2 linked regions of the Homo sapiens genome follow. The protein of the gene in region 1 purifies or fractionates together with the protein of each later gene. This does not show direct contact. Each region holds a gene or a part of one and is shown in the gene's direction. Other genes may lie near its edges.

What was found. The genes of interacting proteins can lie anywhere in the genome.
Region 2: the proteins of NPNT (region 1) and TAL1 purify together in Homo sapiens (affinity purification with mass spectrometry; one large-scale study listed by BioGRID and IntAct). This does not show direct contact.

The regions. Positions count from the first base shown.
Region 1 is NC_000004.12:105,936,971-105,940,470, forward strand, and holds part of NPNT (nephronectin isoform B precursor), read left to right. Parts: intron 1-38; coding exon 39-158; intron 159-1,330; coding exon 1,331-1,450; intron 1,451-3,104; coding exon 3,105-3,239; intron 3,240-3,500. UniProt on the Homo sapiens protein: Functional ligand of integrin alpha-8/beta-1 in kidney development. Regulates the expression of GDNF with integrin alpha-8/beta-1 which is essential for kidney development.
Region 2 is NC_000001.11:47,225,726-47,229,225, reverse strand, and holds part of TAL1 (T-cell acute lymphocytic leukemia protein 1), read left to right. Parts: 5' UTR 1-30; intron 31-3,336; 5' UTR 3,337-3,337; coding exon 3,338-3,500. UniProt on the Homo sapiens protein: Implicated in the genesis of hemopoietic malignancies. It may play an important role in hemopoietic differentiation. Serves as a positive regulator of erythroid differentiation.

The DNA.
Region 1 (3,500 bases):
TTTTGTAATTTTTCTGCTTCAACCCACATTGTTTTCAGATCTAAATGAGTGTGGCCTGAAGCCCCGGCCCTGTAAGCACAGGTGCATGAACACTTACGGCAGCTACAAGTGCTACTGTCTCAACGGATATATGCTCATGCCGGATGGTTCCTGCTCAAGTATGTCAAGAATCTTAACTGTTTTATAAGTGCTTTGGGCTTGTTTCTGTTGTGCTCTGAGAGCTTGCTTTTGTGAAAATGGCCTCCGGGGTTCTCCTAAACAAGATGTGTGCGTGTGTTTATACTTTTGCCTGAGGAATTGAAAATCAAAATAAGAGGCACCATTTTCGATGTATAATACTCTTCTATCACGGGTGCCAATATTAAATTGATTAGGAAATGGTGTTTAGAATAAGAATTACAAAACTAAGTATGTTTTCTAATTTTTTTTTTAAACATGTTTACCCATGTCTTCTATCTGGGCATAGAAGAATGATTCCAGGCTAAAAAAAAAAAAAAAAGAACACTACTGACTATTTAGGGACTGCTCAGACAGAATCCATCAGGTCTGTTTTGTAATTTTAAATCATTCATAAATATTTTCTTCATTTTTATATTTCATTATAAAAGCCTTTAGGCTTTTATAGAATTTTAGACTCTAATAATAGTCTAAGACTTCTAAAAAACAATTTCAAATAAAAAATAAATGAATATGATACCAGAAAAGTAGGATTCATGTTTATAAGGAAGAAATGCATGTTTTCACCATCATTTGGATGTAAAAAATGGACTATGCCCTAAAATTCTCTATAGGCTGACTCCTGAATTGTGGTATTCATATGATATCTGACAATTAATGACTTGATTTTTATTTTTACTGAATTATCATTTAACTGAGTTGCATAAAATAAAGTTAGCTAATTTTATTTAACATTGCATAAGTATAGCATGGAACTTTTTGGAATTAGGTGAATACATGTTTAACATTGTGCAACTCAATGGGAAATCTGCTGTTCCCCTAGAGAAATTTCATGGGCATTTGAGACAGTTACTTGGATGATTAGTTAAGAATAGCGTTTAGCTTGAGTAATCTGGAAAAATACCTCAATTCTTCACTTTCCTTGGCCACTGGAAAAATTTCCAGATAATCTATATATGATAGTTTTATATTTGTCTTTTAATGCTTTCTTTCCTTCCCCCTTTTATTTTCTTTAGATGTTTGATAGTTAAGGCCTCTTTGTCTTCATTGTTGTTCAGTGTCACTGATTTCAGGACAAGTGAAAAAACATAGCTATTTCCATTACAGATTTTGTTTTCTACCTGTCTGAGTCAGCCAGTCACTCTCTTTCCAGGTGCCCTGACCTGCTCCATGGCAAACTGTCAGTATGGCTGTGATGTTGTTAAAGGACAAATACGGTGCCAGTGCCCATCCCCTGGCCTGCAGCTGGCTCCTGATGGGAGGACCTGTGTAGGTGAGTTGTAAAATCAAGCATCTCTGTCAGCAGCCTCTGTAGGATAAAGGGAGAAAGTGAAAGGTGATGGGAATAAGGAAAAAAAAGGCAATTACTTACATCAGATAATTAGCTATCGTTCAGAAGATATCAGATGTCTCAGAAGAGGACATCTCTGTGAATGGATAATGGGAGCGTTGTTTTTTAAAAAATGAGAAATAGGAGGAGGCCTCAGGCAGAGGGAACCCTATGTGCAAAGACACTGCAGTTCAGAGGAGCACAATGTTTAGGGAAACGAGAAGAGCTCAGTATTCCTAGAATGTAAGCGGCAAGGGTGAGCAATGAGTGATGAAGCTGAATAGCTAGATTGTATGTGTTGTTCTTCAGGCCTCAGATTTTTTTCTGGTAAATTAGGAAGGCAGTGTAGGATTGAGAGTCTGGACTTTGGTTTTAAACCTGGCTCTTCCATGTACTAGATATGTAACCTTAGGCAAGAGACTTTGTTGCTTTGAGCTTGGGTCTTCTTATCTTTAAAATGGAAATAATACCACATAGAACTGGTAGGAAGATTGAATGAGATCATGGATGCAAAGAGCTTAGCACAATACCTAGCATGTAATAAGCCTTGAATGAATGGAAGTGTTTGGTGATTAGAGTTATTTACTGAGTAATTTCTATACTCCAGACACTGTGCTGAGTGCTAGGATATATAGCAGTGGCCTAAGCACACAAGATTTTGATCCCCACAAAGCTGACATGCTAATGGGGGAGACAGAAAAGAAACAAATACCCCATAAAATTACAGACAATGCCAAGTGTTAACATGAGGTACTGAGAGAAAAACAGAATGTGTCTATTAGCCTTAAGGTAAGACCTGTATCATTAGCCATGTGAAGAAACAGCCAAGCAGCTGAAGACATTGCAGGGCACTGCGGTGAGAGAGAGGTTGGCCTGTGTGAGGTTTTTCAAGGAAGAAGGTCCATGTAGCTCAAGTACAGGGTGTGAGTATGAGGGGTGGTGGCTGGAGATATAATGGGTGAAGTAGGTGAGGGTGATTTGTTGCAGGGCCTTCAAGGACACAGGGGAGGAATGTGGATTTAATTCAAAGTGCAAGTAGAAATAGTTAAAAGATTTTGAGCACAGTAATGATTTGATTGTATGTTTTAATGGAATCATTTTGACAGTTGGGTTGGATATGCTTTGGAGGGGGTAAGTAACAGCAAAAGGAACTGTTTTGAGGCTTTTGTAACAGTCTAACCCAAGAGATGGTGGCTTCAAATAGGGTAGTGGTGGTGGATTAAGAGAAAAGTAGACAGATTCAAATACTTTTTTTTAGAGGTAGAATTAACTGGACTTGATGATATGGGAGTTAAAGGAAAGAGGGTTGTTTCTAATTCAAGAATGACTCATGTTTCTAGTTTAAGCAACTTGGTAGATACAGGTGCAGTATGTGCTAATATATAGAGTGCAAGAAAATAATAACTTGGCTTAGAAGGCTGGGTTGAAATTTGGATATGTGGAATTTATGTTGCCTGTAGGGACAACCAGCTAGATACCGTTTATGATGAGCCACTATATGCTAGGCAACCATTTGTAGTCAGTTATTTATTTTGAAACCCACTCTGTCTTAACATACCCTTGCTCTTCCTAAAATGCTATTGACTTATGTTTCTAGATGTTGATGAATGTGCTACAGGAAGAGCCTCCTGCCCTAGATTTAGGCAATGTGTCAACACTTTTGGGAGCTACATCTGCAAGTGTCATAAAGGCTTCGATCTCATGTATATTGGAGGCAAATATCAATGTCATGGTAATGAAACCCAACCATTGCTTTGTGTTGTTTCTTCCTAGAGCACTGAAAGGTCTCGTAATTGTGGTGATGGCTGGAATGTCAGGGGCAGGGGAGAGTACTGGCGTTAAGTTAAACCAACAGACATCCAGTTTAACCACTGGTAGTTCTCAGTCTACATGTAGTTTATTTCTTCTGTTTATCTGCCAATATTATGTAGATCATCACATTGCCAAAAAAAATCATTTTTGAAACTGTATATATTTTTTATGTCATCATATT
Region 2 (3,500 bases), on another chromosome or scaffold:
GAGGGGCCGGTCTCTCTAAATATGCCCCAGGTGAGTTTTCAGGGGAATGGTGCCGGTGGAAACGGTGTCTAGGAAGGCCTTGTGTTCCGGCCTGGGGTGAGGAAGGCTCAGGACAGAGGAGAGCCCATTCTCAGATTGGGGGTGGGGGGAGGGGAGGACCAGCCAGAGCTTGGAATCGGGATCTGACTGCTGTAGCTGCCTCTGTGGCATTCAGCGGCTTTTTCCCTTTTCCACCCAGGGTAAAACCAGCTAGTTGGACTTAGTCGTCCAGGCCTTTCCCATTGGTCCCGGTTCTGTGGACGTTTCCCAAGGCCGGTAACTTTGGGGCGGCTGTATCCGGGTGGTACAGACTGTGCCTGGAGCTCCCGCAGGAGGAAGGCGGCAGCCTTCCTGGCTAGTGCAGTCCCAGCTCGAGTGGGCCCTGATCCCAGGCCTGAGGCCTAGGGTGGGGAGGCAGGAACACCCCTCTTCTCCGGTAGAGGCGAGGATGGTGGTGCTGTTCCCTGGTGGGTTTGGTACTTGTGCAGGCTTGGGGCTTCTCCAGGGTGTTGTGCTGGTGTGGGCCCAGAAGAGAGACCAGAGGCTGGGTCTAAGGGCCTGAGGCTGTTTTCATCTAAGAAATTCTCTGTATGGGGGATTGGGTCTGCTTGAGACCTGTCCCCAGGAAGAATCTCCTGGGGTCTTCTGTCTTGTTCTGGCACAGGTGGAAATATTCTGGCTGTCTGGCAACTGCAGATGAGGATTTCCTGTTGGGGGCTATAAGCAGGGTCTCCGTAGTACAAAGAGAGAGGAGCTGTAGTCGTCAAATACTCTAGAACGATTCAGTCTAAAATCTCCCTCCTCCTTCATTCTCCCCAAATAAAAACAAACAAAATCTCTCGGGCGTTCCTTTCTGTAATCCAAATCAAGTGATGCAGCTTAGTCGCCAACAACCATCAGTGTTTGTGAGTGGCTTCTTTGGGGCATGGACCTCTGGCTGGTAATCCTAAACCGGCAGGATTTTCCTAAAATGTGGGGAGGAGCCGGGAGAGGTCCTCCACAGATCCTGGGATCCAATCATATATTTCTTACAAGGAACCTTGGCGATGGGATATTTATAGGTGTCTGGAGAGGACATTTGTGGCCAGGGTCAATTCATCTGGAATATGTACTCCCATTGCCTCTCAGGAATCCACCGCTAGAGCAGGAGCCTAAGAATTAATTGGAGGGTAAAAATGTGTCATAACAGAGCTTGAGCTCAGTCTGCAACTGCAGTGCACACTGTCACTCGGTTAGAAGCTGGGGCTTAAGCATGGATCACTGGGCTCACACCGGTGTGTCAGGACGGAGAGCAGTGAGGTAGGGAACCAATACCTTGAAGCTTGTATGTTTCCCAGGGGTTGGTATATTTCTGGCACATTTCGCTGCTGCTGGGAGCAAGAGGACCTGGCTGATATACTTCTGGTGCATTTCCAGTGGCCTTGGTGTCTTGGTGGTTGCATTCTATGGATAGAGACCTATTGTCTCCACCAAAATCATAAACTCACTTCCAATGAAGTGTCAGGGACCTACTGCCTTTACAGCTTGTATACACCAGGACTTAGGGAATTTTGTGGTTTCTGTGCCAGACCTGGGGGGCTGGCATTCCCAAAGAAGGTGTACAGCAGTCTGAATCTTGACTCTCTGTCATCCTGGGTGTCTAGTGGCAATTGAGCCAAGCTCCAGAGGAGGCTGCAGATGATCCATTCTCCCTTCTGGGGTGGGAGGGATGGTTCCTAGGATGACTCCTGTCCAGAGCATTGCAGTGGCAGTATGGGAGCTCAATGGCTGCTATGTATGATTTAGATGGACTCTGCATGGGGGTAAATTGTTTTTTTGTATTTGTTTTCTTCTTTTAAATACCCAATTATATAATTCAGAGAGCAGAAAGCTTATTTTAAACAACTTATGTGGTGTTGATCATATATGTACAACTCACAACTCACAAACTCTGGCCCTTGAGTCTCCTGATTTTTCTGTTTTGGTTCTTGCTGGTGCCCAGCTCTATCTGGATGAAGCCAGGTGATGGAAGAGCCCCAGCACACCTGTGGGAAGTAGAGTGGCTGTGGTCATCTCGGAGTATGCTTGTGGGGTCACAAGGTGGTTTCACTGCTCTGGGAATACAGGAGGGTTGAGCAAAGTGAGATTATTGCTCTGGTCTGGCTCTCTCACAGATAGGCTGTGAGTGACTTGACATTCGGCCAGGCAGTTTTCTCACTGGCCCATTCTCCTTGTTAATAATGTTTACTTGAACGTTTGCACAGCACTTTCAAATGCATAAAGGAGGTATTCCTCCCATTTCCCAAAGAACACCAAGGCAGGAGATGGCGGTGAGGGGGGCTGGAAGAGTTCAAGGGCCTCATGACATCCTGTCCTGCTCTTGGATGGGAGTCCAGACCCCACTGGCCTCAGGGAACCCTTCAAATGCCCAGCTCCATTCTACCTCAGCCAGGCCTCTCTTTGAGACTCGACCTCACTTCAGAGTCCAGCTGAGCAGAACGAGGTGGACTGTGCAGGGAGGTTGGGCCAGCACCATCTTCTTCCCTTGGCGACCTCTCATCTCTGTCTGAGTGGGAGTAAAGATCCGCTGGGCGGGCAGAGGACTCACAGTGGATTTGCTCAGTGTAGACAGACACTCCCTCACTCCCCAGCGGGGGCGAATGTGTGTGTGTGTGTGTGTGGAGGGAGCTGGTTCCTCGGGATTATTCTCTGCCAGCTCTGGCGGAGTGGATCCCAGTCCCCGTAGCCTCCACTTTCTAATTCCCTACTTCCATCCGCACCGGGTTTCTGGGTGTGTGCCTGTAGGTGGGCTGGGAATATTGCTGAGAGGCCAAGGGAGGTTCCTAAAGCAACGAACCCCTGCCTGACAGATTCCCCGCTAAAACCAAAGAGCACGATCCGGAATTTGTTCCCTCCTCTTCCCTTTAGGCCTGAGAAAGGGGACAGAGTAATCTCTTTCTTGCCTCCTTGTACATTTCCTTCCTCCTGATTTCCCCTTCTGTGTTTCTGTCGCTGGCTGTATTCCTTTTCTTCCGGTGTCTCTGTCGTCTTCCTCCATCTCTGTCCTTTTGGCCCTCAGTCTCTGTGTCTCCCAGGCACCCCTCCCTTCTCCCAATCCAGAGACCCTCTTTCCCTCCCACCCTAGCCCCAACCGGCCTCCCGCCCTAGCCCCACGTGGCGCTAACTTTGTCTGCCTCTTCTCACGTCTCGGTGCGTGAGTTCCTCTCTCTGCCCTTCTCCCCTTTACCCCAGCCCACGTCGGTGGGTCAGGGGCGGTCGTCAGAGCGGGCATCCGCTTGTCTGTCTGTCTGCCCACAGGATGACCGAGCGGCCGCCGAGCGAGGCGGCTCGCAGTGACCCCCAGCTAGAGGGACGGGACGCGGCCGAGGCCAGCATGGCCCCCCCGCACCTGGTCCTGCTGAACGGCGTCGCCAAGGAGACGAGCCGCGCGGCCGCAGCGGAGCCCCCAGTCATCGAACTGG